Regions from separate parts of the Homo sapiens genome. Here regions 2, 3 and 4 are each linked to region 1. The links come from fine-mapping of genetic effects on plasma protein levels. A gene starts in region 1. Each other region holds a variant in brackets. All regions are shown on one strand. Distances are between the middles of the regions.

Region 1 (8,144 bases):
TCGTCCTGGGGGAGGCCTTTCTCCATTTGGACATTTTCCTGTGTATTTAGGGAGAGTGACAAACTGCAGACCAACTTATCAGGTTAATTATGCTTTTAAAAACATCGCAGACGAGGAGCAAAGTGATGGGGAGGCTAAATGAGGAACTCGGTGGTGGCTGAGTCTGGCATTCTTTGCCCTTCTTTGGGTCTGCAGGTGGGAGTTTCTGCCCTTTCCTGGGCCTCTCCTTTCTGGACAACCCGAGAGACAGATCACCTTAAAACACAGCCTTCATCCTGTACCTGCCCTAAGCCTTCAGTGGCTCCCCATCTTCTACCTTCTCACCTACAAACATCCTGTCCCACATACACTGGGTGATTCCCGCACGAGAGGAAGAACTGCTTCAGTGGTCCCGGCTGAGCCAGAAGGACCACTGCTCTTCCTCATCTCCCACCCTTCCTCACCTCCCTCCCATCCTCCCCATACTCCACCCCAATCCCTGCCCTGAGTCAATTGCTCACAGCCAAGTTCCAAACACTAACTGCACTCTGACCGGGAAGGGCAGAGAACTGCAGGGGAAATGATCCATGGATTAGCACAGCATTTGCTTCTCCAAGCTGTGGCCACCCTCTGGGCTCATTTTCTGCTTCTAAACAACTCTATACCACAGAATCTCAACTACCACCATGACGGGTCTTCAACATGCTGCCCTTGATTTAAAAGACAACCGCAACAACTGTAAAACTGTCTCCCTTATCCCTGTAAAATTTGCTCTTGCTGCTTTTGTGTATTCCAACCAACTGCGATGTGGACCGTCACCGATCAACAAGGGATAAAGGGAATCTAGATGCATCTAGATTCCAGGCACTGTGCTAGGTGCCAGGCAAACACATGTGAATGAAACACAGTCCTTCAACTTCTATGAGCTCAGCAGAATGTGTGAATGGGAGGCTCCGGTGACTACAGTAATAGGCTCTGTGCCAAGTGGCAAAGGAACCACATGGAGACTCGCGGCTGGGTTTGGGAGCAGAAGAGTGGGCAAACCGTAAAGGAGGGTGAATTTAAGATTTTAAAAAAGCCATAGTCCAAATTCTAAAATAGTAAAAGCTGAAAAATAGGCATATTCTATGACCCAGCAAATCTACTCCTGAGTATATATTCAACAGAAATATGGGCACCAAGAAGAACATGCAGGAATATTCATGACAACACTATTCATAAGATCCCAAATGAGAAACCGCCCAAATGTCCATCAACAGGGAAATGGATAAGTAGGTTGTGGAATATTCTTACAATGGAATGAATGATCTATAACTACACACAATGTGGGTGAACCTCAAATACGTAATTCGAGCAAAACACAGACACAGAAGATTATATTCTATATAATTCTATGTATATGAAATACAAAACCAGGCAAAACTAATCTATGGCATGGGACTCAGAAAAGTGGTCAGCATAGGGGAGGGAATTGTGGCGTGAAGAGGCCATGAGGAGCTTGGAGTGTGCTGTCATGCTCAGTTTCCTAATCTAGGTGCAGGTTACAATGGTGTATTTGGTTTGTAAAAATACATAATGCTGGGCCGGGTGTGGTGGCTCATGCCTGTAATCCCAGCACTTTGGGAGGCCGAGGCGGGTGGATCACGAGATCAGGAGATCCAGACCATCCTGGCTAACACGGTGAAACCCCATCTCTACTAAAAATACAAAAAATTGGCCGAGTGTGGTAGCCCATGCCTGTGGTCTCAGCTACTCGGGAGGCTGAGGCAGGAGAATCGCTTGAACCTGGAAGCCGGGGGTTGCAGTGAGCCGAGATGGCGCCACCGCACTCCAGCCTGGGTGACAGAGTGAGACTCCATCTAAAAAAAAAAAAAAACCATAATGCTGGACATTGCAAATATGTGCACCTTTGTGTGGATCTCAGACTTGAATAAAAAGAAAAAATTAAGTATGTCTATTGTCTTAGTCCATTCAGGTTGCTATAATAAAATATCATAAACTGGGTGGCTTATAAACACCACACATTTATTTCTCACTGTTCTGGAGGCTGGCAAGTCCAAGATCAAGGTGCCAGCAGATTGGGTGTCTGGTGAGAACCCACTTTGTGGTTCATAGATGGCCATCTTTCACTGTGTGCCCACATGGCAGAAGGGACAAGGGAGTACTCTCAGGCCTCTATTATAAGGGCACTAATCCCAATCATAAGGGCTTCACCCATATGACCTAATCACCTCCCAAAGATCCACCTCCATTACCATTACCTCGGGGGTGAGAATTTCAACATATGAGTTGTTGAGGGACACAAGCATTCAGACTGTAACAGCTGTTTAGGTAGCTACACAGCTAAATAAGTATTATTTTCCAAATCACATTTCAGCGATTTCTCTACCATTAGGCCATGGGCCAGCAATGGAACCTGGCTTATCCTTCTTGTGTTCTTCTTTTCCTGGCACAAATATGGTTGGTAATCTTGCCAAACAGTAATCTCCCTGGTATAGTTAATTTGGCCTGCTAGGTTATATCCAAACGATCACTGTATTCACCTATAAATGCTCTCAAACTGGTCCAAGGTCTAATCAAAGCTGGAAATTGATCAAATAATGACCCATTCATGCATTCTAGAATTCAGCCATTCCCTGTTGCGTTTTTAGAAACTGGCATAATTTTCTATTATTTACGCGATCTAGAGAACTATGTCATAGACCCCTGCATCATAGAACACCCAGATCTGTGGTCTCCATCTCATTCTTCCTGCTTTCTCAAAGATGATCTACACACAGTTCTATTTCCCAGACTATATAATATAATCCACTTTATGTAACATAGTGTAATTCACTTGGCCCTGGTCTCTCAGTTCTTTTGAAGAAATGAATGTTCTCACACTAATTCCTTGGTCTGTTTGTCGATCTTTACAGGCAGGGAGGGAGGATGCGAGGCAGCATTGGGTCGGCTCCACATTCTCCACATCTGCTTATTGTTTTCTTGCCTTGTTTGCAGCTTCCAGAGCTCCTCCCTGCTTCTGTAGCAATTTCAGTCTTCCCCATTCCTCTGTGCCTTTGTAAACAGCCTTTTGTTCACTAACAAGAGGAATCTGCTGCCACGTCAGCTCTAAACCAACCTCCCACCATTCTCTGGGTAAAGTCCTGCTTAGAAAGGGAATAGGAAGAAGAGGGGTGGAGGGGGTTGGAGATGATTGTGTCTAGTGGGAACAGGCAGGGGGATAGTGCACAGAGTTCACAATGGGACAACGAGCCTGCCGAGGCTGCACTGCCGGCCTGGCTGGGTGACCTTGAGCCTATCTGGGCCTGTGAGCTCACCATGCAAAGGAGCTGGACCACAGAATTCTGAGTCCTTTCTAGCTCTAAACACTGTGGCCCTAAGTATCTATATGTGAAACAAAATTGTCCTGACATTTGTCTCTGGGTACTGAACTATTAGGAGATTTTGATTTTTTCATCTCCATTTTGCAAACAGTCTGTACTAAGATTACACTACTGTGTTTCTGTTTTGTGTGTATTCAGAAGCACAAAAAGTCTGTGGTTCTAGAAAGGAAATAGAAAAGTTCTTAAAAAAAAAAAAGTGGGGAAGTGAAACAAATGTTAAAGTCAGAGGAGAAAGAAAGGCCCAACCGGAGGCCCCAAATCCACCCAGAGCCCAGAAGCCCGGGTTTCCCACCGACCGGCTGCGGTCTTTGTCAGCTCTCTGGCGCTATCTGCTGTCCTTCTCGATAACAACCGTTTAATTTGGTTTGCAAAATTGCTCTGACGCAAATCCACCGTGAACACTGACGGGGTCACATTCAGCATAAAAATCGCATTCTGTTTACAGGAAAATCTGGCCCCATACTTGCTCCCATATTCACTTTTGACTTTGCCTTGCAGTACTAACTGTAACAGGGACACCTGAGCAAGTCCCTTCTGTATAAGGCCCAAAATGGTCACCCAATACCAATGAGTCTCTTGCTTTGGAAAGCCCAGGAATGCACCTCCAGCCCCTTCTGCGCAGCGCTCGGACACCATGTAGAGGAGAAGGCACTCTGCAGAACTCGCCCTCAGCCCGCACCACCTGTCCAGGGGACTGGCTGCGTGTCAATGTGTCTCTGCTCCCGGGGTTCCCGCAGATCTTTAACTTATTGGCCTTTGGGCTAATTCAGTCCTTCAAGCATTCCTCGCCCAACATGCCAGGAAGTCTTCTCACGTGTCTTCCACCCCATACCTACCAGTTCTGTTTTCCCACTACCCGATGAAAGTGTAACCGCCCCCCGGCGCCCCCCCCCCCCACCACCACACACACACCCTGTTGGTCCCATCCTCAGGGCGTGGTGGTCCAGGTGAACGCTTGCCCTCTTTTTGAGCTGAACCTCCCCACAGAGGCTGTCAGCAAAGACTGCTTTGCTGTCCAAGGCCGGCCTTTAGGTACAGGACACTATGCATGTCCAGCGAGGCTTGTTGAAGCCACATCTGTCATAGATATTGATGGGAAAAGCATTTTCCTTCTAACACATCTCATTCCAATTCTAAAAGGCACCTCTGAAGCCTTGCTGAACTTCATCAAGATTTTCACGTGGTTTCCTTAGTAAAGTGTGATGAGAAGGTCCATCCTTCTCAGGATGAAGGAGTGGTCCAGGAAGCCCTGATTGGTCTGCCGGGGAGGGAAGGGCTGCCTTATTTGGAGACCTGCAGGAATGCCACCTCCCCCGGCAGCTCCTATATAGCTGGGCGGACCTGGCTGCCAAGAGGGTGTGCTGGGGGACTGTGCAGCTCGAGGCTCCAGAGGCACACTCCAGAGAGAGCCAAGGTACGTGGGGGGCCACTTCTGTGGTCAGGACTGCTGGTTTCTTATCAAGGCTCGATCCCAGATTGAAAATCATGCAATGATTTCTTTACTCCCACACCTGGGGATGGGTCCCAAGTTCAGGGTAGACTTGCGAGGATACCCAGTCATCACTGGGCTTGCCTTTCTCTAAGTTGGTGCTATAATAAAATGCTACTTTAGGGTTTGTGGGTTGGGATTTTGTTTTGCCTTTAAGCTTCTGCCTATGAAAACTAATCTCTTTCTCAAGAATGCTGTGCTTTTATTTTTTTTATTTGACTCACCTGAAATGATCTATTATGCCATTAATCTTATTTAAGATTTCTCCTTAAAAAAGGAATGATGTGGAGTATGGCCCTATTTAGGAGACTAATGAATATTTGCTTCATGCTTGGATCTCTTTGGAGAAAGTCAGTCTGAGTTCACTGTGCTCAGGAGGCAGAGAGAGTGGGGTGAGGGGGTCCAGATGCTCATAGCCACCCTGGGACAAAGACGAGGCGATGTCTACAAGCAAGGAAAGGTCAGTGAGGCCTCTTTGCAGGCTTCTAGAGATGACTGGATGTGCTTCTAGAGATCACTTCAGCTGTGTTTTGCCTTTTTTTTTTAATATAAGGAGCAATGTGGCATCAGAGTTGAACATTTTATCAGAGGAACATTAGCCACTTTTAGGGAAGCTGCAGCAGGGTGGTGGAGGGTGTGTGAGGGGCGAAACAAGCTCCCTGTCAGCCTCCTCCAGCTCTGGGGCCCCATGGCCTCACAGTAAGTCTTTGCCTAGGAGACAGCTTAGGCAAGCTCCGGTATGGGAACTCCTTCCATTTCCCTAATCCACACAGGCAAAGACCCAGGTGCTAGAATGCCCTGACAGTCGGCCTTGGGAAGTGGATTTCCTTGATGGCTATTGTAGATTCAGGAGCCGAATGTGACAGGCAACCTTAAGGTGTGGGGTGAGGGGCTTTTCCATGACATCAGTGGCAGCCCTTCGGATGTCCCAGGGCCACCTTGACCCGGGACCCTCCTGGTGTTCCCCCAGGCCCTCCTGTCTTCCCTTTCATCTCGTTTTCTCCGAAATTCCTCAAGGGCCCTGCCCTTTGCCCTTTGCCCAGCTCAGGGGGCATCATACCCAGTGAGTGAAAAGCACAGTGTGTGAGCACTGTCTTCTCCTGAAACCCAGATGGGCAGTGGGGCATGGCTAGTGGACACATGCAGTGCAGCATTAGACAGAGCCCAGTGCAGGTCTGCCACCTCCCCGCTGTGCAGCCTTGGGCAAATTACTTAACTTCTCTGAATCCCAGGACAACATTTATAACATGGGGATAATAATGTACCTACTCTATGTGAGAATTAAGTTAGGCAATGTCAGAGAAGAGCTTAACACGGTGGCAGGCATGAAGAAAGTATGCAATAAAAAGCCAGTAGGATAAGCAGATGGTCACACTGTCCCCCAGGGGTGAGATTGGAAAGGATGCCTGGAGCACACTTGACCCCTGGACATAGGGGAGGCAGGGGTCCCTTTGCTACGTTTCCATCTTTCCCTTCCTTCCTCCTCCTCTCTCTCTCATTACTGCAAAGCCCTTTAGGATCAGCAGCCAGTGAATTCCTCAGAATGGATGGCAGAATGCCCCCAAGACAGTGCCAGCTCAGAGCAATAAAGAACAAAGAGGGGAGATTGAAAGTACAATCTAAAGTCGGCACAGTGGCTCGTGCCTGTAATCTCAGCACTTTGGGAGGCTGAGGTGGGAGGATCACTTGAGCCTGGGCAACATAGTGAGACCCCGTTTCTACAACATGTATTTAAAAATTAGCTGGGTGTGGTAGTGTGTGCCTGTAGTCCCAGCTACTCCGGAGGCTGAGGCAAGAGGATTGCTTGAGCCCAGGAGTTCAGGGCTGCAATGAGCTATGATCATGCCACTGCACTCCAGCCTGGGCAACAGAGTGAGATCCTGTCTCTAAAATATGTGTGTGTGTGTGTGTGTGTGTGTGTGTGTGTGTGTATGTGTGTGTGTCTGTACATATACGTATATATATATGTGTGTATATATACATATATGTGTGTATATATGTATATATGTGTGTGTATATACGTGTATATATACATATATATGTGTATATATATACGTGTATACACACACACACACACACACACATATAGTCCATGCCCACCAGCATTTGATTCCAACTCTTCTATTGTATTTTCCTCCCAGGGATTTCTTGATTTGAAAGACTTGGGAGTATCAAAGAAAACCTACATGTATTAAGTCACCACTCCTTTATTTTCCCATGCGTATTCAAAGCCACTATAATTGCCCTTTGCCATTCTTACCTGTCTCGGAAACCGGGACCAGAGCCCTGAGTGAATGTAATCCTAGCAATAGCAAAGGAGCTCGGTGTTTGAGTTAACCCTGCACAACCCAAACATGGGGAAACAATTATGCTTTTGAGACCACATAAATAGCACAAGGATGCGATTCCTTCCTTAAAATCTCCTGCACTTGGGAGGGGGCAGGGGAGCCCAGGCAGGCCTGGTGGGGAGCTGACCCACCGCCGTTTCTCTGGCAGGTTCTGACGCGATGAGGAAGCACCTGAGCTGGTGGTGGCTGGCCACTGTCTGCATGCTGCTCTTCAGCCACCTCTCTGCGGTCCAGACGAGGGGCATCAAGCACAGAATCAAGTGGAACCGGAAGGCCCTGCCCAGCACTGCCCAGATCACTGAGGCCCAGGTGGCTGAGAACCGCCCGGGAGCCTTCATCAAGCAAGGCCGCAAGCTCGACATTGACTTCGGAGCCGAGGGCAACAGGTACTACGAGGCCAACTACTGGCAGTTCCCCGATGGCATCCACTACAACGGCTGCTCTGAGGCTAATGTGACCAAGGAGGCATTTGTCACCGGCTGCATCAATGCCACCCAGGCGGCGAACCAGGGGGAGTTCCAGAAGCCAGACAACAAGCTCCACCAGCAGGTGCTCTGGCGGCTGGTCCAGGAGCTCTGCTCCCTCAAGCATTGCGAGTTTTGGTTGGAGAGGGGCGCAGGACTTCGGGTCACCATGCACCAGCCAGTGCTCCTCTGCCTTCTGGCTTTGATCTGGCTCACGGTGAAATAAGCTTGCCAGGAGGCTGGCAGTACAGAGTGCAGCAGCGAGCAAATCCTGGCAAGTGACCCAGCTCTTCTCCCCCAAACCCACGCGTGTTCTGAAGGTGCCCAGGAGCGGCGATGCACTCGCACTGCAAATGCCGCTCTCACGTATGCGCCCTGGTATGTGCCTGCGTTCTGATAGATGGGGGACTGTGGCTTCTCCGTCACTCCATTCTCAGCCCCTAGCAGAGCGTCTGGCACACTAGATTAGTAGTAAATGCTT
Region 2 (8,144 bases), 20 kb after region 1:
GTCCACACTGGGTTACAGAGCAGAAGAAAATAAGTGAAGTCTAACATCGAGATTGTAGGCCGGGCGTGGTGGCTCACATCTGTAATCCCAGCACTTTGGGAGGCCAAGGTTGGTGGATCACTTGAGGGCAGGAGTTCGAGACAAGCCTGTCCAACATGGTGAAACCCCATAAAAATACAAAAATACAAAAAATTAGCTGGGTGTAGTGGCACACACCTGTAATTTCAGCTACTCCGGAGGCTGAGGCAGGAGAATCACTTGAATCTGGGAGGTGGAGGTTGCAGTGAGCCGAGATCACACCACTGCACTCCAGCCTGGGCAACAGAGCAAGTCTCAGTCTCAATTAAATAAATAAATAAATAAGTAAATAAATAAATAAATAAATAATAAAAATAAAATGAAGATTGTAAATAAACTTGATCAGGTCCAAAGAAAATAGAGTCTTCCTTCATCTTCGCTTATACTTAGATAGCAGGCCGTCTCTATGTGAGTTACTCATTGCCTGAGGCTGGATTCACCAAGAACTAGATGCCAAGTCAAGGATTCATGTACAAGTGGTTTATTCGGGAGGTGATCCCTGCAAATGCTGCAAGTGGGGAATGGAAAAAGGGAAGGGAAGGTAGCCCAAAAAGGCTGTGTTAGCATGTTTATTGCATGGGCAACCGGAGCTTCACTCTGCTTGGGAGGCCCCTGGATGCCAGAGTAGAACATATTCCTCAGGGTTATGCTGCCTGCAGGGCGAGGGAGCTGGGGAATTTATACACCAAGATCTGTCCATCATTGGTTAAGGACAGCTCCCAAAGGCTATACTTCCCTAATAGTTCCAACCTGCTGAGTGCATAGGCTGAGTGGGCTTCCGAGCATGCTGGTCCCATCTCCTAATGATGAGAGGTGGAGGCACAGGAGAAGGTAAACAAATGGCAAAGACACTTAAATACATGAGAAAATGAGTCCAACCTGAACTTTGACTTTTCTGGGTGGCCCACTCATCCCACTAACTACCATAACTTCATTTCGTCTGCTTTTTGCAAAGAACAGACAATTCCAAACAGCCAAGCCTAACAAGTAGCTCATCTTAGCTTGTGGATTCAGAGCACTGGTGGCCTCTCCACCTCCAATTGACACCAGAAAACATATAAATACCTCTAAACATGCCTTGGGTATTTGTTTTTCTAATTGCAAATATTATACCATAACTTAGTTTGAAGGCTTTGTAAAGAATATGCCAGAAACATCTAATATTAGCCCTAAAAACTAGGGCAATCTTTTTTTTAACAGAAGAGTGTTCATATAAACATCAAAAGATGTGATGAGAGTAGTTTCAACTTCTAATCATAGAAATTATAGGGCTATTTCATGAAAGAGGTGCTTTATCAGCTCATCTTGAGTGAATGTTAAAGATGAAGATATGGCTAGTATCTCCAGAGTCTACTGTCTCAGAGAGGTAGCCCAAAGTTGTAAGACTGAGTGCCTTGAGGTAGGGAACAGGAAGCAACAGGGTCTCCAGGTTCACTGAGGAGTACTGACCTGCAATGCGATTCCTACATCAGCAAAGGTCTTCCTTCCATCGTTAGAGGACTCCTGGATTTGCTATGCCTATCCTGATGGCTTCCTACATGAGACCATCCATTCACACTTGGCCCTTACCCAGGCCTGAAATTCTCCCCAGTTGCACTCCACCCACTTATGTCTATCACTTAGCTCAAAGCCAGTAAAGCTCATCTCTGAACTAGCAAAGATTCCCTTTATCCCATCAAAATGTCCTTAACATCTATCTTGAGGTCATGCAGCATGATCTTACTTTGCTGGCATTCTTTCCTTCTTCTGTGGATTCCCAAGCAGAGTACAGATGTACAGATTCCTTGGGGGATAAGAGCTGGAATTTCAGCTTCTTTTTTTTTTTTTTTTTTTTGAGACGGAGTCTCGTCTGTTGCCAGGCTGGAGTGCGGTGGTGCAATCTCTGCTCACTGCAACCTCCGACTCCCTGGTTCAAGCTATTCTCCTGCCTCAGCCTCCCAGGCAGCTGAATTACAGGCACACACCACCACGCCCAGCTAATTTTTGTATTTTTAGTAGAGACAGGGTTTCACCATGTTGGCCAGGACGGTCTCGATCTCCTGACCTCATGATTTACCTGCCTTGGCCTCCCAAAGTGCTGGGATTACAGGCATGAGCCACCGCACCCGGCCTCACCTTCTTTTATATCCCACACAGCACCCAGCACAGAGCACAAAGCTAAGCGCATCGATCCAGCGACTGACTGACTGAATAAATGAATACATGCTATCTTGCTTGTAGAAGCCCAGATTCCTCCTTCTTACGACTCCCACACCCACTTAGGAGATTCTATTATGTCTTAAAAGAAGTTACATCTCCATTAGTGTCAAAGCAACATTATATAAGTGGCTCAACATGATCAGGCATGAATTTCTTTGTTTTCCCACTCACCTGAAAGCCCAAAAACAATCCAGGTGGTGGTAAACACTTCTGATCCTTCAAAGAAAACGGAAGAAAGCGATCCCTACCGTCTATTTTGAATCTACCGTTTTTTGTTTTTGAGTGTCTTTTAAATCTATTCAAAATCCTTTAAGGGCATTTCACCATGCATGGGAGAAGGTCATGGATCCTCAACAAATTGCAAGAGGCCTTTCACAGGCTAGACTCTGCCTTGTTCTCCAAGCTCACCTTCCATAATCCTGATGTGCTCCATATTGCCAGACTCTTTCAAGTCCTTCCCCGCCCTGCGGAGAATCCCTACTCACACCTCAGGACCAGCTCAGACATGGTCTCCAGGAGACCTTTTCTAAGATCCTATGTGAGGTAACTAGCCCCCTTGGCACCTTGTGACATAATTATTCACTTCCATGTACATGTCCCGTAGTGAACTATGAGCACCTCCAGACCTTACCCTGCGTTTGGTCGCCTTGCTCTCCTCTCTGCAGCTGGCACCCAATCTTTCCAGGCTGTCTCTAGGGACTCGAGCCCTTGGGATGGGGTCCTCAATGCTTTTCCACCTGCCTGGCTTCTAAATTCCACTAAGATCCTGTCCCATTCTCTTGGAAACACTAGAACTTACTCTGACATGCCCTATGGAAGTTATTTCTCCACTGCTGTTCAAACCCACTCCCAGACCTGGCCTTCCCTGAGGAGAGCGTCTCAGCCAAATCCAACTGCCTCTAGCTCAAGTTTCCTTGCGGGGGGCCCGCTGGCCTCATCCTGTTAGGTCGTCTTAGAGCCACAGGAGAATCAATGTTCCAGTGTCAGCAGGAAGAATCAATGTTCCAGTGTCAGCCAGCAGGGGGCAGTGTGAAAATACACACACCAGGCCCTTTTTTCAAAGGGTCTCGGCTTCCCTGAGGGTGTCTATCTGTGCCTCTATGAAGCATGGCTTGGGTCATTCCTCCAGTCCCATGGCCAGGTGGATCCTTCGTTTACCTTTCATTTCTATTAAATGAGAACATTCTCAATTCACTAACTGGATTGTTGGAAAGGCAGCAAGCTCTGCTAGATAGTTCTAAATATTTGCATCAAATATGGACCAGAAATTGTGAATCTGTCTTTCAACGCCCTCGGATCTGAGTCAGCAAGGCTGCCACGTGCAAAAGTAGGAACGTTAAATACTTGAAGCTGGGAGAGAATAAGTGGGTTTCTAATCCTCTCTGGTGCATTCAGTTCTAGAAAGTGGTTCTTTGTATTCTACTGGAACATTTCTATGTATGGTTTTTTTGTTGTTTGTTTGTTTGTTTTTTGAGACAGAGTCTCCCTCTGTTGCTCAGGCTGGAGCACAGTGGCACAATTTCAGCTCACCACAACCTCTGTCTCCCGGGTTCAAGGAATTCTCCTGCCTGAGCCTCCCGAGTAGCTGAGATTACAGGCACGTGCCACCACGCCCAGCTAATTTTTGTATTTTTGGTAGAGGCAGGGTTTCACTATGTTGGCCAGGCTGGTGTATGTATGTTTTAAACATGCTTTAAAACAAAATTTCTTTTTAGAGATGGGATCTTGCTATGTTGCCCAGGCTGGAGTGCAGTGGCTATTCACAGGTGTGATCATGGCGCACTGAAGCCTAGAACTACTAGGCTCAAGCAATCCTCCCACCCTAGCCTCCCACGTAATTGAGACTACAGGTATACACCACCATGCCCGGCCTTAAACATGCTTTTAAATGTGTCATAAATCACATTTCTCTGATGAATAAAAAGAATTATCTAATGTTGAGAAAGAGTCAGTGTTTAATCATTTACCTCACAGTGCAGATTTCTTAATAAATTCTGTTATTGAATCTACAGAATTTAACATTATGTTATTTTTGGCCCTGAAGGCATAACTTCAAGCCATTCTGGATACTGAATGTGTTGCTGACATACACATTAGCAAATCACTCAGAAGCATATACACTTTATTGCATTATCAGTAACATGAAGAAATATTTCTATATCATGAGAAAGAGCACTTTCTTCTTGATATGTGTGTAATCCCTTGGTCTTGGGAAGCTAAGGCACAGCTTACAGAGGGATTTTGTATACCCCACTCATTACGTAGCTTAAATCAGGCTGGGTAAACATGTAAACCAAATGCAAATCATCAATCTACATATGTTTAAGAAATAATATAGACATACTGCTGAAGCATGCCTCCCAGGGAGTTCTGGACTTTAAACAGCATCTTATAAATCACCAGCAAGAACAATCAATTAATATTTTGGCTGAGGGTCTTTACCAGACTCCCAAATACCACTGGAGTTAAGCACTGAACCAACACAGGCCAGCTGCAAATAAGATTCATTGCTATGGTTTGGATATTTGGCCTCCCCTCCAAAGACAATATCATGTTGAAATTTCATCCCCAATGTCAGAGGTAGGGCCCACTGGGAGGTTTGGGTCATGGGAGTATATCTCTCATGAATGGCTTGCTGCCATCCTCATGGGAGTGAGTTCTCACTCTTAGTTCCCTCAAGAGCTAGTTGTTGAAGAGTGTAGAACCTCCTCCTCCCTCCTCTTGCCTCCTCTCTCCCCATGTGATCTGCCCACAGTGGTTCACCTTTCCCTTCCACCATGAGTAGAAGCAGCCGGAGGCCCTCATCAGAAGCAGGTATTGGTCCTATGCTTTTTGTACAGTCTGCAGAACCATGAACCAAGTAAACCTATTTTCTTTATACATTACCAAGCCTTAAGTATTCTTTTATAACAACACAAGCAGGCTAAGATAACCCCATCTATGGTCAGTCACCAAGGCCTCTTCTCTCATATGAGTTTTGTACCTTACTCTATTTAATAAAGTTTGTTCTCATGGGGATATGCATTAACAATTCTGATACGTGCATACTGAAATCGAAAATTAATTAAACAAATGGCGGATGGTAGAAGCCAGGTTGCTCACTGTTGGAATGCAAGTTTACAGATAAGCCAGGGGAGGAGGCTAGAATGATCCACTTGGTAACAGAGCGGAGTTGGAGGCATCAGTATGAACTCATGTCTAGCTTAATACAGGGGCAGAAGATTCCATATAGAAATATGTATAGATATGTGATATTCACAGGTTAGTATACACATGAATATTTCCTTGCTCTGTCATCTGAGAAGGACTAAAAGAAACAGCACCCCAGTAGCAAAAAGCATACCTAGCACCCAGACCTTGGTTTCTAATAACA[C/A]TCTCCAGTGAAAGGTACCAGGGCTCCTTGGAGAAATGGCCAATTCTATGCCTCTGACAGAAATATGCAAGAGGAGCCTGGAGTATTTTGTAGTGCCAGAAAATAAGGAGGCACTCAAAAACAATCAAAAAACAAATGCATATTAATGGAGCTACATCAAAGAAACACAGGAGCCAACTGAGAGTGCTCCCAACGGCCAAAGCTGGAACAATTTGAGCAACAAAATAAAGCAGTGCTGGATTATCATTCAAAGTATAAAATAAATACCCCTGAGTCCTCACTATTGCAAATAAATGATTGAATAAATTAATAAATGGGGGAGGAGAGACAAGTCCCTTGGACTGATAAATTTCAAATAATTTATGCAGATACTCTGCCTCAAGGGGGTGAGGCATAACTCCTGACTCATTAAATGTGGAGTAAGCATAGTGACTTCCTTCCTAAGAGGACAGTATGGAATGGGGGAGAAGAGTAACCTTAGAGTGGAGGACCCTGACACATACGACCTCAGCCAGGTGATGAAGGTCAACATCAGTGGTGATCAATCATGTTGATCATATGTACTTCTGATGTGATGTGAGGAAAGCAGCACTTTACTTCTGTGGACTTCCTCTCAAAAACTCATAACCCCAGTCAAGTCAAGAGAAAAACATTAGACAAATTTAATAAATAGGCATTTGGGAAAATATCTGAGCGGTACTTCTCAAAACTATCAAGGTCACCAAAAACAAGGAAAGTCTAAGAAACTGTCACAGCTAGAGGAGCCCAAGGAGACACGATGATCATGTATCAGTGCTGGTTCATTCCTTCTAACAAATGTGCCCTACTCGTGCAAGATGTTAACAAAGGGAACATTGGCCATGGGTATATGGGAACACCCTGTACTATCTTCTCAATTTTTCTGTAAGTTTGAAACAGTTCTAAACAAAAAAAAGTCTTTTAAAAATACAATCAAGGCCAGGTGCAGTGACTCAGGCCTGTAATCCCAACACTGTGGGAGGACCACTTGAGCCCAAGGAGTTTTAGGCCAGCCTGGGCAATGGGGGGAGACCCTGTCTCTACAAAAAATTTTAAAAATTAATCAGGTATTGTGGTGTATATCTGTGGTCCCAACTACTCAGGAGGCTGAGGTGGGAGGATTGCTGGGGTCCAGGAGGCCAAGGCTGCAGTGAGCCATGATCGTACCACTGCACTCCAGCCTGGGTAACAGAGCAAGACCCTGTCTCAAAAACAAAAACAAAGAATCTATAAATAAATGAAAAGATTAATATCCACAAAAGGACAAATATTGTATGATTCCATTTATATGAGGTAGCTCGAATAGGCAAATTCTTAAAGACAGTAAATAGAATAGAAGTTACAAGGGGCTGGGAGGGGGAGGAATTAGAGCTTATTGTTTAATGCACTGCACTCCAGCCTGAGCCAAAAAGTGAGACCCTATGTGAAAAAAATAAATAAATACATAAAAATACAATCAACAGAAGAAAAGAAAGTATTTACAATATATAACAGATAACAGATTCCTATATAGACTGTATAAAAAACTTCCAGAATCAATGAGGAAGAGAAATAACCTGATTTTAAAAATTGGCAAAGGATGTGAAAAGGCAATACATGGAAGAAATACAAGTGTCCAAAAAACATAAGAAAAAATACTTAATCTCACTAATAATTGGAGAAATGCACATTCCATTAAAATACCAGTAAGACTGATTTCTCTTCTCACTTTAAAGGTCTGGTGATATCCAATGTTAGCAAGGGTGTGAAGAAACAATGAAAATGTATCCATACAATACTTGTGTAATTAAGTATAAATTGACAAGGGTGAATTTTTAAGGAAACTAAGAGAAAAAGAAAGGCGTGATCCCTTTGCCCCATTGTAAAGGAAACTATGACTCAAAAGTAACGGGTGGCTATCTAAATGCCAATAAGCACATAAGAAGGTGCCTAATCTCACTCATCATCAGTTAAATGCAAATTAAAACTATACCCAGATGCTACTATGTACCAGGATGACTGACACCAACATTGATGAGGATGTAGCACAACTACAGCTCCCATGCACTATTGGTGGGATTGGCACAGCTCACTTTGGAAAACAACTGGGCAGTATCTATTCAAACTAAACATGCTCATTTTATGGCCCACCAATTCTACTTCTCAGTAAATACTCAACAGACGTGAGAGCTTATGGCTCCCAAATGATACATGCAAAAATGTTCATATCCACCTTATTCACAATAGCTACAAGTAACTCAAATGTCCATGGATAGAAGAGTAGCTAAATGGTGGCATAGCCATACAATGGACTACTACACAGCAACCAAAAAGAAGAGACTATTACCACACACGGCATGAGTGAATCTCATGGGTTGATTGCTAAGCAAAAATGTCATGCAAAAAATGATATATTGTACAGCTCCATGTCTATGAGGTTTAAGGGTAGGCAGAGCTAATCTAAGGTGATAGAAACTAGAATAGTGGTTTCCTTGGG
Region 3 (8,144 bases), 29 kb after region 1:
CTATTTACCACATCCTTTTAGGAAGAGAACATCTAGGGCACCTTCTCCTCTCAGTGAGGCACTGCAGGTTCCCATAAGACCTCAGCCACGCCTGGCTAAGGAGAGGGCCCAGTTGCCCCTGCTGAAAAGGGCTCACTGCAGCTCTGGGAGAGGCTCCTTCTCTGGGCGTCTTCCTCAGATGCTGAACGATCAAGTGGGATCTGGAGCTGCCCGGAGTCCCCTCCCCTGACCTTCACCAGTCAGGAGTCTGGGAGGAACAGCTCATTCAAATATGCACCCAACGTGGATTCTCCCTCCACCCACTGACAGAAATGGCTAATGGAGCCCCAAAATCCTGCAGAGTTTAATTACCAACCTGCAAAGACAGGCTGTCAGCTCCAGTCCTAGGTAAAGACCTATGGGAAAGGGTGTTAGGTCAACCCAAAGACAGACAACAATGTCCACAGCAGGTCTGTCATCATAGCCGCGTTTTGGAAACAAGGTGAAGTCCATCAACAGCAGGCTAAATGCATAATTTGTGGCATAGACACTCAATGGAACACTCCACAGGAAGAAAAGGAGTGAACAGCTGCCCCGTGCAATAGCATGGATGAGCCCACACATGATGCCAAAGAAGCCAGACACAAGGGCATGCGCTGTATGATTTCCATAGGGTGTTGAATAGCATCTCCCCAAAACTCACATCCACCTAGAATCTCAGATTGGGACTGTACTTGGAAGTGGGGTCTTTGCAGATGTAACTAAATTAAGATGAGGCCACCCTGAATTAGGATGTGTCCTGAATCTAATGAATGGGGTTCTTATAACAAGAGGAGAGGACACAGAGAATGAGGCCATGTGATAATGGAGACAGATATTGGAGAATGATTTCACTACAAGTCAAGGTACACCCAGGACTGCCAGGAGCCACCAGGAGCTAGGAAGAGGCAGGAAAGGATCCTCCCCTAGACCCTTCAGGGGAAGCACAGCCCTGCTGACCCCTTGATTTCAGACTTCCAAACTCCAGAATTCTGAAAGCATCAGTTTCGGTTGTTTTAAGCCACATGCTTTGTGGTTATGTGTTACAGTGGCCCCAGAAAACCAAAATTTCATTGAATGAAATTCAAGAGAAGGCAAAGCTAATCCATAGAGATGGAAGCTCAAATACTGGTAGAGGATGGTCCTCATCTCGGAAGAGAAACAAGGAAGACTTCAAGGGTGTTCAAAATGCATCCTGTTCCAGGTGGTAGCTACCTAGTCATAGACACATGGAAAATTTCACTGAATTATACAGTTAAAATGTGTGCGCTTCCTTGCATGGAAGTGATACTTCAATAAAAATTTAAAAAGCAAGAAGCAGGCTGTTCCACTGGAGCTACAAACTACTTTGCTCTTTTTTCTTTCTTTCCTTGTCTTTTGTAGAAATGGGGTCTCACTATGTTGCCCAGGGTGGTCTCAAACTCCTGGGTTCAAGGGACTCGCCCGCCTCAGCCTCCCAGTCAGTGCTGGGATTATAGGCATGAGCCACTGTCCCCAGCCACGCTTTGTTCATTCTTGAAGGAAATCTCTATGATGTTCAACTTGTTCTTGTCACTCAAAATGACCATCCCCTGCCCTCTATAACTACCAGTAGAAACAAGATCTCTAGCAGCACTTTTCCAAGATTGGGTTTTCCCCAGAAGCACAGCCTGAGACAAGGATTTGAATGCAAGTGCTTTGCATGGGAGCACATGGGGAAGGGAGAAGGGAGATGGGAAGTGTGGGGAGGAGCACTGTGCCACCCACCCTGGGGACCCACTGAGACACCACAGGACACACCTCAGAATCTGCCCACCAAGTAGCAAGGGAGCTGGAGCCTTTATTGACCAACAGCCCTGCCTCACAGGGTAAGGGTGGCTCCAAGCACACCAGAGAAAGAACTCAGGCAGAGAGAGGCAGGAGCCTCTGCACTGGCCTCCAGCCTGGGCTGAGGCCATATGGGCCGGGACCTTCGTCTCTAGGTACAGGCCAGGGAAAGGCAAGACCTGGCTGGCCTTGAGCTCTGCCCTCTTGTTTGGGGGATCGAAGAACCAGGGATGCAGTATACTGAGAATTTCAAGTTCACGAACTTTCCTCCCCTTTCTTAGCACACAAGGTCCCTCTCCATATGGACACAGGGAAACCTCACCCCCCAAGGCACAACTGCCAACACCTTTCCATGAGAGCAAAGTGACTTCAGCAAAAACATCAGGTGAGGATGAAGATTGTCCAGAGGAAGCCGGCCCCAGGCTCTCCAGGGCTCCATTGTTCTCTGCATGTCTCAGAGCTGTCCAGGGCATGGTGCGGGCCAGCTGAAGGAAGCTTTGGCTCCGGGTTTTGTCCTCTCTTCCTGCTGGTGGGAAGAATGGGAGCTGGCAGGAAAGGAAACTGACTGAACAAAGAGAAGGAGGAAAATCAGAGGACCCCT[G/A]GAGAGATGTTACAGCTGGCCTGAGAGCTCATTGTGTTGGAGTGGGGGAAGAAAGCCATTCCCGGGAATATGCCTAAAAAATGCAAGAGACTCCCATGCCCGTCACCATCAAACCAGGCACTAGCCCGAGAATTTGACTTCCCAGATCTCAAAGGGGACTTAAAACTTTGGGTCCAAAAGACAAGATTTTTTTTCCATTTGCTTTAAAACTCTTGTTGAAAAGCAGATGTTAAGTCTGGGGAATCATGTGTTAACCAAGAAAGAGGTTTCTTAAGTGCATCAGCCACCATCCATAGCTGGGAGCAAAGCTAAGCTTGCAAGTTGGGGCCAGGAATATGTAGACAAGGACTCCGAAAGGTTTATGCCATGAGCCTACACACGAGAGGGACTCAGGGGCCTTGAGCATCCAGGTATCCAAGCTCTGGTGCCACAGTACTGGGGGCCATTGCTCAGAACTGAAAGCCTTGCAACGGCAAACTGCAACACCATTCAGATACCTGAGGCACTCCTCTGGGGCATGGCCATGACAGAGACTGTGCCAGGCCCCAGAACACTTTGCTTCTCTTACCAGCTGTGTGTGACTTTGAGAAAGTCACTTATCCTCGTGGTCTCTCTGTTTCCTGATCTGTAAGGTAGAGATCTTGACCTGCTTCATGGAGTTGGTATGAGAATGCCAAGTGTTTAATGCAGTGCTTAGAACATAGTGAGTGCTCCACAATATGAGTTACTGCACTGATGCAGTATGTGTGCTCACAGTCAAATGCCACATGCCCAACCCACCATCTACCTTCCTTTCTCTCCATTAGATTTCCAGGGATGGCTTTTTGGGGGAAAGGAATTGGTAACTGACATAGTTTTCCATCACGCTCCAAGCCAGAAATCTTGAGATCCTATGATACCCACTCAAAAATGCATTATTAATCCAGTTCTCAGCAACTTCTACTCACTACCATCATCTTTCATCTGGATGTCTACGACAGCCTCCTAACTGATGTTCCTGCTTCCATTCACAGGAACAGAAATAATCTATTAAAAGTCTAAAATCTGACTCACCCTCTCTCCTTAAAACTTTTCAAAAACTTCCCATTGTACCTAAATAGAATCCAAACTCTTGCACTGGCTTCAAAAGCCCTGTGCCTTTCTACAAGGTCACTAGACCCCTATTTCCCTGACAAACTCTGTTTCAGCCATGCAGTTTCTCTGTCAGTTCCTGAAACACAACAAGTTCCTTCTAGCCTCAGGACCTTTGTCTGTTTCCACTCCCTTCCCTGCATTACGTGACAAGCTCCTTCTCAAACTTCAGATCTCAGCCTAAATGTCAGCTCCTCACCAGGCTTCTCCAGGCCATTCTCTCTAAAGTAGGCTCCTTCTGCTACTGCATCATTATCTGTTTCCAGTTCGCCATTCTCTTCTTGTATCAGTCAGCTATCGCTGTGTAACAAGCCACCTCAAAACTCCATGGTTAAAAACAACAGGCATTCATTATCACTCACAACTGCAGGTTGGCTGGGGTTCAGCTGGGCACCTGTGCTCCTCATGGAAGGGCTGTGGGTCAGGGGAGGCCGTTCTGTTCCACATGTCTCTCAACCTCCTGCTGGGATGAGACTGGGCCCGTTTTTCTCATGGTAATAACAGAGGAACAATAGAGCAAGCAGAAAGATGTGAACTCTCTCAAGGCCTAGGCTCTCTCAAGGCCTAGGCTCAAAACAGACACAACATCCTTTCTACCACATTTTATGGGCCAAAGCATATCCTTGTGATCAAGCCCAAACTCAAAGAGTGGGGAAATGCCCTCCATCCATAGTGAGGCCAGGCAGGCCTGTGTCCACAGGGAGGATGGATAAAAAAATGTGGGCAGTCATTCAACTGCCACGATTTGTGATTCATGATGAATATTTTTGTTTCTCCACTCTCCACTAGAATGAGCAAGCAGGAACCTGGTATCCACAGCACCTAGAACAGTACCTGACATGTGACAGATGCTCAACAAGTCCCTTATTATACTTTTGTTTTGTTGTGTTTTTTTTAGAGACAGAGTCTCACTCTTTTACTCAGGCTGGAGTGCACTGCCGCAAACACGGCTTACTGAAACCTTGAACTTCTGGGCTCAAGCAATCCTCCTACCTCCACCTCTCAAACTGCTGGCATTACAGGCATGAGCCAACATGGTTGGGGCCCTTTATTATACATTGAATGAACTCCTAGACTGGAAGCCCATGTGTTACCTCTAGATGACAATTGTCCTATAAAACCATCATGACAGCAATTGGCTTTTCAGATATGGCTTTTTAATTTTTTTATTATTATTATTTTTTAGCTCTGTTGCCCAAGCTGGAGTGCAGTGGTGTGATCTCGGCTCACTGCAACATCTGCCTCCTGAGCTCAAGTGATTCCCCTGCCTCAGCCTCCCAAGTAGCTGGGATTACAGGCGCCCACCACCACACACAGCTGATTTTTGTATTTTTAGTAGAGATGGGGTTTCACCATGTTGGCCAGGCTGGTCTCAAATTTCTGAACTTAGGTGATCCGCCCACTTCGGCCTCCCAAAGCACTGGGATTACAGGCATGAACCACTGCACCTGGACTCAGATATGGCTTTTGTTGAATATGGACTCAGATATAGACAAACTTTTGCTTAACGATGGAGTCTTTTATTAATCAATGGGCAACTTCACACCTACTTGTTAGCAATTGCTTGGACATGGTCCTAAGGACTACAACAGCCACTTCCCAATCCAGGGCAGAAGAAAAAGCCCATGAACATGGCCCTGACTGGGACAAGGACCATGTGAGGCATTCTCTACTATGGACACAACAGAACTGATGAAATTCAGAGCAGGACCCAGCTCCAAATTCCCCTTGTCCAAAACCTGCTTATTCTTTAAGGGGGTGGGGGCTGCAGAAGGTAACCAGTGGACAAGGTGCAAAGGTTGTTGGGGTCCCTCTTCATACCTCCAAGAAGAATGGGGCAGACAGGAAAGCAGCTGGGAGCTGCCTTTGGAGTGAAGAGTCCTGGCTTGGCCAATGAGCACCAGTGTAACTTTGGACAAGGCTGTTGACCTCTGAGGTCCTTACCAACCCAAAGGGCAGTAGAGTAAATCAAAGGAGAGGAGCAAAAGGAAGCCCACACCTGTGCTGAGGCTCGCTGGTCCTCATCCAGGTTCAGAAGCAGTGTTCTCCAAACTTTTCAGGTTGGACACCCACTCAGTGAGCATTCTCAATATGTGCTGATGCTTATGTATAACATTACATACATGTACTTTTAAATATCATTCATTTTAATGGTTCATCTTCTCACCCTCTTGCACTTGTGTAACAGGACTATCTTCATCTTTTTTTTTTTTTTTTTTTTTTTTTGCACTCACGCTTAAGCCTCTTAGGATTTTTGTGACAGTTTTAGTCTAAGTAAAACTGAAAAAAATACTGAAAAAAATAATCATTTCTGCCACTTGCATGGTCCCCACCAAGGCACTTCTCTAAATTATTTTAGATGCATTTAGATCAGGGGCAATGGCTCACACCTGAAATCCCAGCACTTTGGGACACTGAGGCAGGAGGATCACCTGATCCCAGGAGTTCAAGGCTGAGCCTAGGAGTTCAAGGCTGAGCCCAGGAGTTCAAGGCTGAGCCTAGGAGTCCAAGGCTGCAGTAAACTATGATCACTCCACTGCACTCCATCTTGAGTGACAGAGAGAGACCATGTCTCTCAAAATAAAAATAAAAATAAAAATACACGCATTTTTTAAATTTTCATTTTTCCATAAGTTATTGGGGTATTGGGGTACAGGTGGTGTTTGGTTACACGAGGAAGTTTTTTTTTTTGTTTTTTTTTTTTTGAGACGGAGTCTCACTGTGTCACCCAGGCTGGAGTGCAGTGGTGCGATCTCGGCTCACTGCAACCTCCGCCTCCCGGGTTCATGCCATTCTCCTGCCTCAGCCTCCTGAGTAGCTGGGACTACAGGTGCCTGCCACCACGCCCAGCTAATTTTTGTATCTTTAGTAGAGATGGGGTTTCACCATGTTGGTCAGGTTGGTCTCGAACCCTGACCTCATGATCCACCCTCCTTGATTTCCCAAAGTGCTGGGATTACAGGTGTGAGCCACCACACCCGGCCATTACATGATTAAGTTTTTTAGTGGTGATTTGTGAGTGGTGCAACCATCACGTGAGCAGTATACACTGCACCATATTTGTAGCCTTTTATCCCTCACCCACCTCCCACTCTTCCACCCAAGTCCTCAAAGTCCATTATATTATTCTTTTGCCTTTTCGTCCTCACAGCTTAGCTCCCACATATCAATGAGAACATACGATGTTTGATTTTCCATTCCTGAGTTACATCACTTAGAATAATAGTCTCCAATCTCATCCAGGTCACTGCAAATGCTGTTAATTCATTCCTTCTTATGGCTGTGTAGTATTCCATCATATATATGTACTACGGTTTCTTTATCCACTCATTGATTAATAGGCATTTGGGTTGGTTCCACGATTTTGCAATTGTGAATTGTGCTGCTTTAAAAATACGTGTACAAGTATCTGTTTCGAAGAATGACTTCTTTTCCTCTGGGTAGATACCCAGTAGTGGGATTGCTGGATCAAATGGTAGTTCTACTTTTAGCTCTTTAAGGAATCTCCACACTGTTTTCCATAGTGGCTGTACTAGTTTACATTCCCACCAGCAGTGTAGAAGTGTTTCCTGATCGCTGCATTCACACCAACACTACTGTTTTTTTGATTTTTTTATTATGGCCATTCTTGCAGGAGTAAGGTGGTATTGCTCTGTGGTTTTTATTTGCATTTCCCTGATCATTAGTGATATTGAGCATTTTTTTACATGTTTGCTGGCCAGTTGTATATCTTCTTTTGAGAATTGTCTATTCATGTCCTTGGCCATGTTTTTTTCTTACTGATTTGTTTGAGTTCATTGTAGATTCTGGATATTAGTCCTTTGTCAGATGTATAGATTGTTTTTTCCCACTCTGTGGGTTGTCTGTTTACTCTGCTGACTGTTCCTTTTGCTGTGCAAACGCTCTTTAGTTTAGTTAGGTCCCAGCTATTTATCTCTGTTTTTATTGCATTTGCTTTTGGGTTCTTGGTCATGAAATACTTGCCTAAGCCAGTGTCTAGAAGGGTTTTTCCAATGTTATCTTCTAGAATTTTTATAGTTTCAGATCTTAGGTTTAAGTCCTTAATCCATCTTGAGTTGATTTTTGTATAAAGTGAGAGATAGGGATCCAGTTTCATTCTCCTACAAATGGCTTGCCAATTATCCCAACACCATTTGTTGAAAAGGGTGTCCTTTCCCCACTGCATGTTTTTGTTTGCTTTGTCGACAACCAGTTGGTGTAAGTATTTGGGTTTATTTCTGGGTTCTTTATTCTATTCTATTGGTCTATGTGCCTATTTTTATGCCAGTACCACGCTGTTTTGGTGACTATGGCCTTAGAGTATAGTTTGAAATCAGGTAGTGTGATGCCTCCAGATTTGTTCTTTTTGCTTAGTCTTACTTTGGCTATGTGTGCTCTTTTTTGGTTCCATATGAATTTTAGAATTGTTTTTTCTAATTCTGTGAAGAATGATGGTGCTATTTGATGCCGATTGAGTTGAATTTGTAGATTACTTCTGGTAGTATGGTCATTTTCACAATATTGATTCTACCCATCTATGAGCATGGAATGTGTTTCCATTTGTTTGTGTCATCTATGATTTCTCTCA
Region 4 (8,144 bases), 110 kb before region 1:
GCTTATCACCATGTGAGCACACACAATGGGTTCCTAGGCGAAAGTGGGGGAAACTGTTCACACTCATACATGCATGCATACACACACACATGCATGTGCACACACACATGCACACACACACGTACACACACACACACAAGTCTGTATTCCTGGCCCTCCAACAAAGGTGCTGTACAAGGGAGTGATGGAGGAGCTAGGAAGGTTGACCAAACTATCACTTACCGAGCTCATCATGCAGGTTTGTTCTTCTAAGAAAGGATTCCCTATCACCATATTGCAGGCTCTAAGGTGAAGAAACACATTCAAAATCATGCCTGGAACCATCACAGTCTAGCCTGGTGAGGAGGTTGCAGGCAGGGCCCCTCCTGACATGGACAGGGCACAGGGCGAGATGATCAGTGAGCAGTTACCACATATCTAGATAATTACAATGATAAACACACCTAACAGACTATTAAATAAAACATGTCTATCCTCCTCCATTAACAAATACACCCTCATGAAGCCCTGCAAGGCTGCTGGACTCTCAGAATTCCACACCAGGACACGGCAGCCCGGGGAGAAGCCCCCAGCTGCCCACTTCCCTCATCCAACCTCTGAGGGGCACCGCACAAAAGATACCCCAATTTGCACATCCCAGCTCTATCCACACCCTCCACAAGAACGCTGACCCTTGGGCCCCCTCGGGCCGAGGGCTGTGCACAAGGATAGTGCTGGCCCCTTGGGAGGACAGGCCCTGGGAGGCAGCCATGGCAGGTCCTGGAAAGCATGCTTAAGGCTTTGGGGCTGGGAATTCTAGCATCCCAGGCACCCAGAGCAGGGGCAGAAGGAAGAGGGCAAGCTCTGGCCAGATGTGCTCTGGGCTGATGGGCCCCTCGCACCCTGGGGGAAACGCCAGTTAGGAACCTCAAAGTCCGACACCTGGGGCAGGTGCAGGTCTCCTGACTGCAAGAACTACCGGGACTACTGTTGTTCTGCAGGGCTTACAAAGCGCATCCCTGTTCAAAGAAAGTTTGAAGAATGAAGTCAGTGGTGGGGTCCCCTATAGCTGGGGAAATAGAGAAGAAGAAAGGACCTTGGCAGGAAGTAGCCCAGCCATCCCTAGCAGCTGAGAAATTCCCTCCACCAGTTGGCACCCTCCTCCCCCAACACTTCTCAGGCCACAACAGAGGGAAGAAAGGCTGGTCTCAAAGCACACCTCCCTGGGCCTGTGTGGAAGGCTGGCAGCCTCTGGCCCTGGCCCATTTCCTCCTCCCATTAACATAAGGGGCTCTTGGCTTCCGCTGGAGGTCTTCTTACTTGCCTTGGTTGCTCTCCCTCAGCAACCTCTCCGCACTCAAGGCTGTGACTCTTACCCACCCCACATCTGGATTCCTCTTCCAAGCCATGTCTACTAGATCCTCCGAGGCCTGCCTCTCACTCCCCGTGCAGACAACCTCGCTCCCTTCCCTCAGCAGCAGCTCCTGCACCTGCCCTGGCCCTGCTAGGGAGCCTCAAAACCTTTATAGATGGAGGTAGTGGTTGCATAACCTTGTGGATGTACTAAGCACCATGGGATTGTACACCTTAAAATGGTTAGTTTTATGTTATGTGAATTTCACCTCAATCAAAAAATGAAATTAGGCTGGGTGTGGTGGCTCATGCCTGTAATCCCAGCACTTCGGGAGGCTGAGGTGGGTGGGTCACTGAGGTCAGGAGTTCGAGACCAGCCTGACCAATATGGTGAAACCTTGTCTCTACTAAAAATACAAAAATTAGCCAGGCATGGTGGTGTGTACTTGTAGTCCCAGCTACTCGGGAGGCTGAGACAGGAGAATTGCTTGAACCGGGGAGATGGAGGTTGCAGTGAGCTGAGATCATGCCACTGTACTCCAGCCTGGGCAACAGAGCAAGACTTGGTCTAAGAAAGAAAAAACAGAAAGAAAGAAAAAACAGAAAGAAAGAGAAAGGAAGGAAGAAAGGAAGGAAGGAAGGAAGGAAGGAAGGAGAAGAAAGAAAGAAAAAGAAAGAAAGAAAGGAAGGAAGGAAGGAAAGAAAAAGAAAGAAAGAAAGAGAAAGAAAGAAAGAAAGAAAGAAAGAAAGAAAGAAAGAAAGAAAGAAAGAAAGAAAGAAAGAAAGGAAGAAAGAAAGAAAGAAAGAAAATAAAAATGTAAAACATCTTCTGAGGCCTCCCTTGGCCACACTGAGCCAATGATGTCTCAGGAATCCCTGCACCCACTGCTCCTCCAGCCAGTCCTTCTCATTTGTGTTAGGCCCTCCCTGAGGATGTGGATGTTTTGACCCTGTCACTGGGCTTGGGGGACAGGGGCCATGGCTGGGAATGGACCCTGCTTATGGATACCCAAAGACAGCAAGCTCTTCTGACAGCAGGCATTCATGCCAGAGAAGGTGGGTCCTTTGCAAAACGCACCCTGAGATTTCCCCCAGAAATCTCCCCAGCACTAAGGGTCCTAGCTGGACACTCATCCCTCCTTCAGGGACCACAGATCTGCCTCTAAACCTTCATGCGTGGACTCTGCACCGCTCACTCTAAAAGAATAGGGCTTGTGTAGTCTGGAGCCTTCTATCTTATCCTGGGTAACCTCCCTCTGACTTTCTCAACATCCTCAGCCCCTGAAGATACAGCAGCTAGGACAGAGTCAGTCTCGAGGCCTGGAGGCGAGAACCCAATGTCTTTGTTATCGGGCCCTCTCGTTCTTCCAGGTAAACATCCCTGAGCGAGGGAGGTCTGAGGACAGGGCGCTCCTTGGGCACCCCTTTAAAAAGCAACATACATTATGATTACTTCACCCTGCAAGGCCAAATTCCCCAGGGCCACCACCAGTGTTCATTGTTGCCCTGTTGCTCTTTCTGTCCACACCAGTGGTACGAGGAGACCCTATCTCAACTCTCACTCCCTGAGATAAATGTGAAATGGACAACTTATCTGTGTCTCCCTCCCTCGCTTGCTGCCCCTTCTGGGAACAGGACCCCACTGAGGACAATCGATTCACTTGGCTGGTTGGCAAATTGCAAGAACCCCTCTGCCTATGCCACTGATGCACAATGTCTAGGGCTGGCACAATGCAAACTCCTCCAAGAGCCAGTTCTGTCCCTCCAGGCACACAGATACTATCCATCACAGAGCTGGCGGCCTCAAGAATGGCCATGGGGAGCCACTGAATGTTTTGAGCAGGGGTGTGACATGAGCCAGTTGGGAGTAGTGGTTATGTGCAGGCATTTTGGTGTTGGGCTGCCTGGATTCAGATACCAGAACTGCCACCTATTAGCTGTGGAATCTAGGACAAGTGACCATGCCTCTCTGAGCCTCAGTTTCCCACCTGCAAAATGGGGATAACAACAGTACCTACCTCCTAGGGTTGTTGTGAGGACTGAGTGGGTAAGGCCCTTGCAATAGGGCCTGCCATTTCATGTTAGGTAAGAGTTAGCTTTTATGAATTCAATCTGAGCTCCAGCTCATGGAAAGTTACTTGACATCGCTATGTGAGTTAGGAAAACAGGCTCTAAAACCAAAGGCCCTTGCAGTGATGGAAATAAGCGGTACCCACGCCTGACATAGCCAAATGGAGGTGGGATGGAGGGGAAGAAAGACATTTGAGCCACTGAGAGGCGGAAGGGAAGGACCAGTGAGGTGTGTGAACTGGGTGGGGGTGGGGAGGGAAAGGTGACCCAAGGGAAAGAGAGGCCTTGAGTCTAGGTGAGCAGGAGGAGAGTGATGCTGGCTAGGAAAGCAGGGTCTTGGGGCAAGGCAGGAGAGAGGAGGTGAGGGGCTATCTTCGGACCTACAAGGCTCACGAAGGAAGAGGTGATCATCAGAAAGCTGTAAATATGGGGATGCGTTTGGAGCTCAAGCAATAAATGGAGGCTGAAGGTTGAGCTTTGAGGGGAGGTCATTCAGGCAGCAGTGCAAAGCTCCAAGATCCATGAGATTTCCAAAGGGAAGAGGACTGCAAGTGGAGAGAAGAGGGGAGGGGAGTAGAGGGAGGAAAAGAGGAGAAGAAACTGGACAGGAGGAGTGGGGAGAGGAAAGGAGGCCAAACAGCCTCCAGGGTGGTAATGAACACCACAGCTATGGTGTCATACCTGAGTTTGAGCCCCGCTCTGTCACTAACTAGCTGTGTGACCTTGGGTAGATTGCTGAATCTCTCTGAGCCTTAATTTCTTAATCTGTAAATTGGGCATAATGATAGAAACTCCCATACAGGGCAATGATGAGAATTAAATAAGATTGTGTGTGTAAAGCCCTGATTTCAATGCCTGGCACCAGGGCAGAGCCCAGGGAATGGCAGCTAGGGTCATTAGGATTCTTATGAAATCCAAGTTAAATGAACAGAAGAAGGAAGAGGGGTTAGAGAAAAGGCAACAGAGTGGAGCTGCTTTTAAAGAGCCAGGAGAGCATGGTGGAGTGGGAGGAAAGGCAGGGAGATGTTTAGGAAAGCAGGAGAGGCCAGCAGGTGCCTGGCACCAATCAGTACAGAGGCTAGAACTTAGTGCTTTGGGTTTGGCAACTAACATGTCTCTCGTAACTTTTGAAAAAGCAGTGTGATTTTCAAAAATAAAGAGTAAGTGGGGCCAGGCGTGGTGGCTCATGCCTGTAATCCCAGCACTTTGGGAGGCCGAGGTGGGTGGATTACTTGAG[G/T]TCAGGAGTTTAGGAGTTCGAGACCAGCCTGGCCAACAGGGTGAAACCCCGTCTCTTTAAAAATACAAAAATTAGCCGATCGTGGTGGCGGGTGCCTGTAGTCCCAGCTACTCGGAGGCCGAGGCAGGAAAATCACTTGAACCCGGGAGGCGGAGGTTGCAGTGAGCCAAGATCACGCCACTGTACTCCAGCCTGGGTGACAGAGCGAGACTCCGGCTAACAAAAATAAATAAATAAATAAATAAATAAATAAATAAATAAATAAATAAATAATAAGTGGGAAAGACCATTGGAAGGTACGTTAGGGTGTCTTCTGGGGAAGGGCTGGGAGTAGGCAAGTTTGAATGCCAGGCCAGAGAGTCTGGATTTTATATTTAGACAATTATGTAACTTTAGAGGTATTTGAGTGGGTGTCAGCCTGGTGCTAGTTTGGGATGATGTATCTGGGTGGGGCAGAGGGAGAGAAGGACCCACGCATCACACCTGCCCAGGTCAAAATTAGAATGTGATTGACAAGGACCTAAAATTCCCATGTTGAGATTTTAACCACTCGATTTCTCCAGGGATTCAGCGATTCAGGTTGACTGAAGTTTAACAGCAAAGCAAGCACTAGGCAGAACAGTATCATGCAAAGCCCCTAACTCTGGCATGGGGAGGGATGGGGGACAGATAAAGGAGAGAGGTTGGGAGGGAGATATTGCAGGATGGAGCCAGGCCCAGGCAAGGTGGAAGTTGCAGCTGCTCAGATTTTTTACGATTGCTCATACCGTTCACCCGCAGCTCCCAAATCCGGAAGACTCTTCAGGGACATATAAATAGTAACTGTTATTTGAGAACCCGCAGAGCCTCACCTGTTCTAGCAACTGCCGGAGGCTTATTTCACTTAGCATAATGTCCTCTAGCCACAGTGCAACCTGTAAATATATACAGCTATTATTTGTCAATTAAAAACCACCACCACCACCACCACTGGGGGGCACTTGCTGAGTGTTTTATCTCAGAAGGTGACCTCGCTCTCCCCAGGTCTTGTCATGATACCGTAACTAATCACACAACGACAATGAGAGCCAAAAAGGATGATATAGAGGACACACACATGACCAGTCCACTTCCTTAAAAGTACCTGGGGTCTTGTGATCCGGCCACCTGGACAGAGAACACAACAGTCAGGGGCTTGTTGAGAAACAATTGTGGTTTTGCTTAATTATGACCGAGGAACTGAAGCCAGTCTTCTATTTATGATTGGCAAGGTGGTCTCAATGCATCTGTCCTGCTTAAGAAAGTAACCCCCGCTTTCCAAATCTTTCCAACTTCTTCAAATTCAAAAGTCTGAGGGAGGCTCAGACTGCGTGGGGGTGGGGGTGTTGTTCAAGATGTGGCTTGTGGGATTAATTTTTGGCAGGAAGATCACAGTGTTGAATACAATGAAACTCTGTCCTGAGAACAGGCCTCTCAGGGAGCCGTTGCTGCTCTCGGACTGGCAGGGCCTGAGGAATTCATTACAGGGGATGAAAGATCTACTCAGAGCCAAGATTTATTCCTGCCTGGAGACCCTGGAGTCACTGCATTTCCAAAAAAAAAGGGCTCATTTCATTAGACTCCAAGAAAGTGGATTTTGGGCTTCTAAGAGAAGGAACTATCGTGTTCTTTTAAAATTTTTGTTTGGATCATTGCAGACTAACTAGATGTTTTCCATTTGAAACGACCCCCTTTGTATGTCTCTGCCACAGGACCACAGGGTAACAGATGTGATTTCCGTGAAATGCACCTACCATGGGTCCTGGAACACAGTAGGTGCTCATTAAATACTTTCTTCCATCTGCCCCAGGTGGTCCTAAAATTTTCTGAGTCAGATCCAAGTTCTGTGTAAATGCTTACATCAAAGTGGGGTCTGTGGTCTTGAATTCCTCCCTCCAAGTTAGAACCCAAAAAGTGCCCTGATTCTGTAGCAACTTTAAGAATCTCTGTGATTTATTTGAGTGAATCTTTTAACTGAAATAGTAATAAATTGTGACAGGCCTTCACCTGTTAGCAGAGAGTGACCCTGAAATGCCACCTAGCTTTCAGGAGAAACAGTTTCTAAAGTGAGGATTCAAAGCAAAAATACTTGTGGAAAAAAATGTAACGGATGAAATACATGTACATTCTCCTGTTTTTGATGGTGGTTAGGGGACACATTTTTCCTGCCCTACTTCTTCATTTGAAGTTACTTTCCAAAGTAACTTTCATAACTTAATTACATCTTCAGTGACCCTGTTTCCAAATAAGGTCACATTTGGAGGTACTACAGTTAGGACCTCATGGTTTCTTTGTGGAAGCCAAAATCAGTCCATGTAAATCAGCTTTAATAAATGAGATAGCTGCCTTATGCCACAACCCCACACTGAGCAATGTCATTTGGGTAAATATTTCATCCCAACCATTTGTAATGTAAGGGTTGCTGTTTGCCCAGCCAACAGAAGGGAGTATCTGACCTTAGTCCATCATTGTTACGGGGAGATGCTTGTTGCCATGTGGCCCACTCAAGGGCAGGCAGTTGAAACCAAGCATCCAGGTGCTTCCAGACCAGTCTCTACACCTCCTAGACTTTGCTCTCAGTTCTCTGTCCCATTATGGGAATGTGTGCCTAGAAAACGGGTTGTCCTGACTTTGAGTTTGTGATGCATCTTGTATGTCTGTTTGTCTCTCCCATGTTTAAGCATACCAGGTCACTAGTTCCCAATTGTACTAATTTCCTAAAGCTACTGTAACAAAGTACCACAAACTATTTTGTTGCTTAAAACAACATAGAGTTACTCCCTTACAGCTCTGGAGGCTAGAAGTCTGAAATCAAGGTGCCGGCAGGGTTGATCTTTCTCAGGACTCTGGGAGAATTTGCTCCACACTTCTGGTAACAACCAGCAATCCTTGGAGTTCCTTGGCTTACAGATACACCATTCCAATTTCGGCCTTGCAGGGGCCTAGGGAAAATGTCCCCTTTGCCCTCTGAAGGTTCACTGAAAATCAACTGACAGAAGGCAGATTCATTAGGAGAAAAGACAAACAAACTTATTTGGTCATAGTTTGTATCACCCAGGAGCCTTCAAAATGAAGACCCAAAGATATAGGGAAACTGGCCATTTTTATGCTTAGGTTCAACAAACTACGGGCAGCTATGTAGAAATATAAGGGGACAAAGAGGATAAGATCTAATGTTAATAGGCTGAGTGGGGAAACCCATGAAGGCTGTCTGTTAGATTCCTCTTGGCCTCTCTGTAGAGCGTTCCTTCTGTATTAGTCTGTTCTCACACTACTAATAAAGACATACCCAAGACTGTGTATTTTTGTAAAGGAAAGAGGTTTAATTGACTCAAAGTTCAGCAGGGCTGGGGAGGCCTCAGGAAACTTACAATCATTGTGGAAGAGGAAGCAAACATGTCCTTCTTCATGTGGCAGCAGCAAGGAGAAGTGCAGAGCGAAGGAGGGGAAAGCCCCTTCTAAAACGTTCAGATCTCATGAGAACTCA

Alleles and levels. Alleles are on the strand shown, and positions count from the first base shown. The strength of an association depends on the size of the effect and on how common the allele is.
With allele C in place of A in region 2, the plasma level of the protein whose gene starts at base 4,716 in region 1 is higher (moderate association).
For the plasma level of the protein whose gene starts at base 4,716 in region 1, allele G in region 3 goes with a higher level than allele A (weak association).
As copies of G replace T in region 4, the plasma level of the protein whose gene starts at base 4,716 in region 1 goes down (weak association).

Evidence for each region. PIP is the posterior inclusion probability: the model's chance that the variant is causal. Protein levels are from antibody-based Olink assays in UK Biobank. Linkage for the fine-mapping came from a reference panel and not from the study's own genotypes, which makes the PIPs less certain.
Region 2: its variant is fine-mapped to the plasma level of the PRND protein (UK Biobank, PIP 0.97).
Region 3: its variant is fine-mapped to the plasma level of the PRND protein (UK Biobank, PIP 0.94).
Region 4: its variant is fine-mapped to the plasma level of the PRND protein (UK Biobank, PIP 0.91).

Annotation. Positions count from the first base shown.
Region 1 is chr20:4,717,194-4,725,337 of GRCh38, forward strand. PRND (prion like protein doppel) reads left to right here and starts at 4,716. Exons shown (of 2, transcript NM_012409.4): 1 at 4,716-4,776; 2 at 7,348-8,144. The coding sequence starts at 7,359. The coding sequence ends at 7,889. RefSeq lists an enhancer at 3,419-3,638.
Region 2 is chr20:4,737,692-4,745,835 of GRCh38, forward strand. It overlaps PRNT (prion locus lncRNA, testis expressed), which reads right to left and starts at 2,977. Exons shown (of 2, transcript NR_024269.1): 1 at 2,909-2,977. The variant C/A (reference allele first, on the strand shown) is at 5,651.
Region 3 is chr20:4,746,675-4,754,818 of GRCh38, forward strand. No RefSeq gene overlaps it. Among named protein-coding and RNA genes, the nearest start is that of PRNT, 10 kb to the left of the region's middle. RefSeq lists a silencer at 2,189-2,483. The variant G/A (reference allele first, on the strand shown) is at 2,426.
Region 4 is chr20:4,608,391-4,616,534 of GRCh38, forward strand. No RefSeq gene overlaps it. Among named protein-coding and RNA genes, the nearest start is that of PRNP, 74 kb to the right of the region's middle. The variant G/T (reference allele first, on the strand shown) is at 4,640.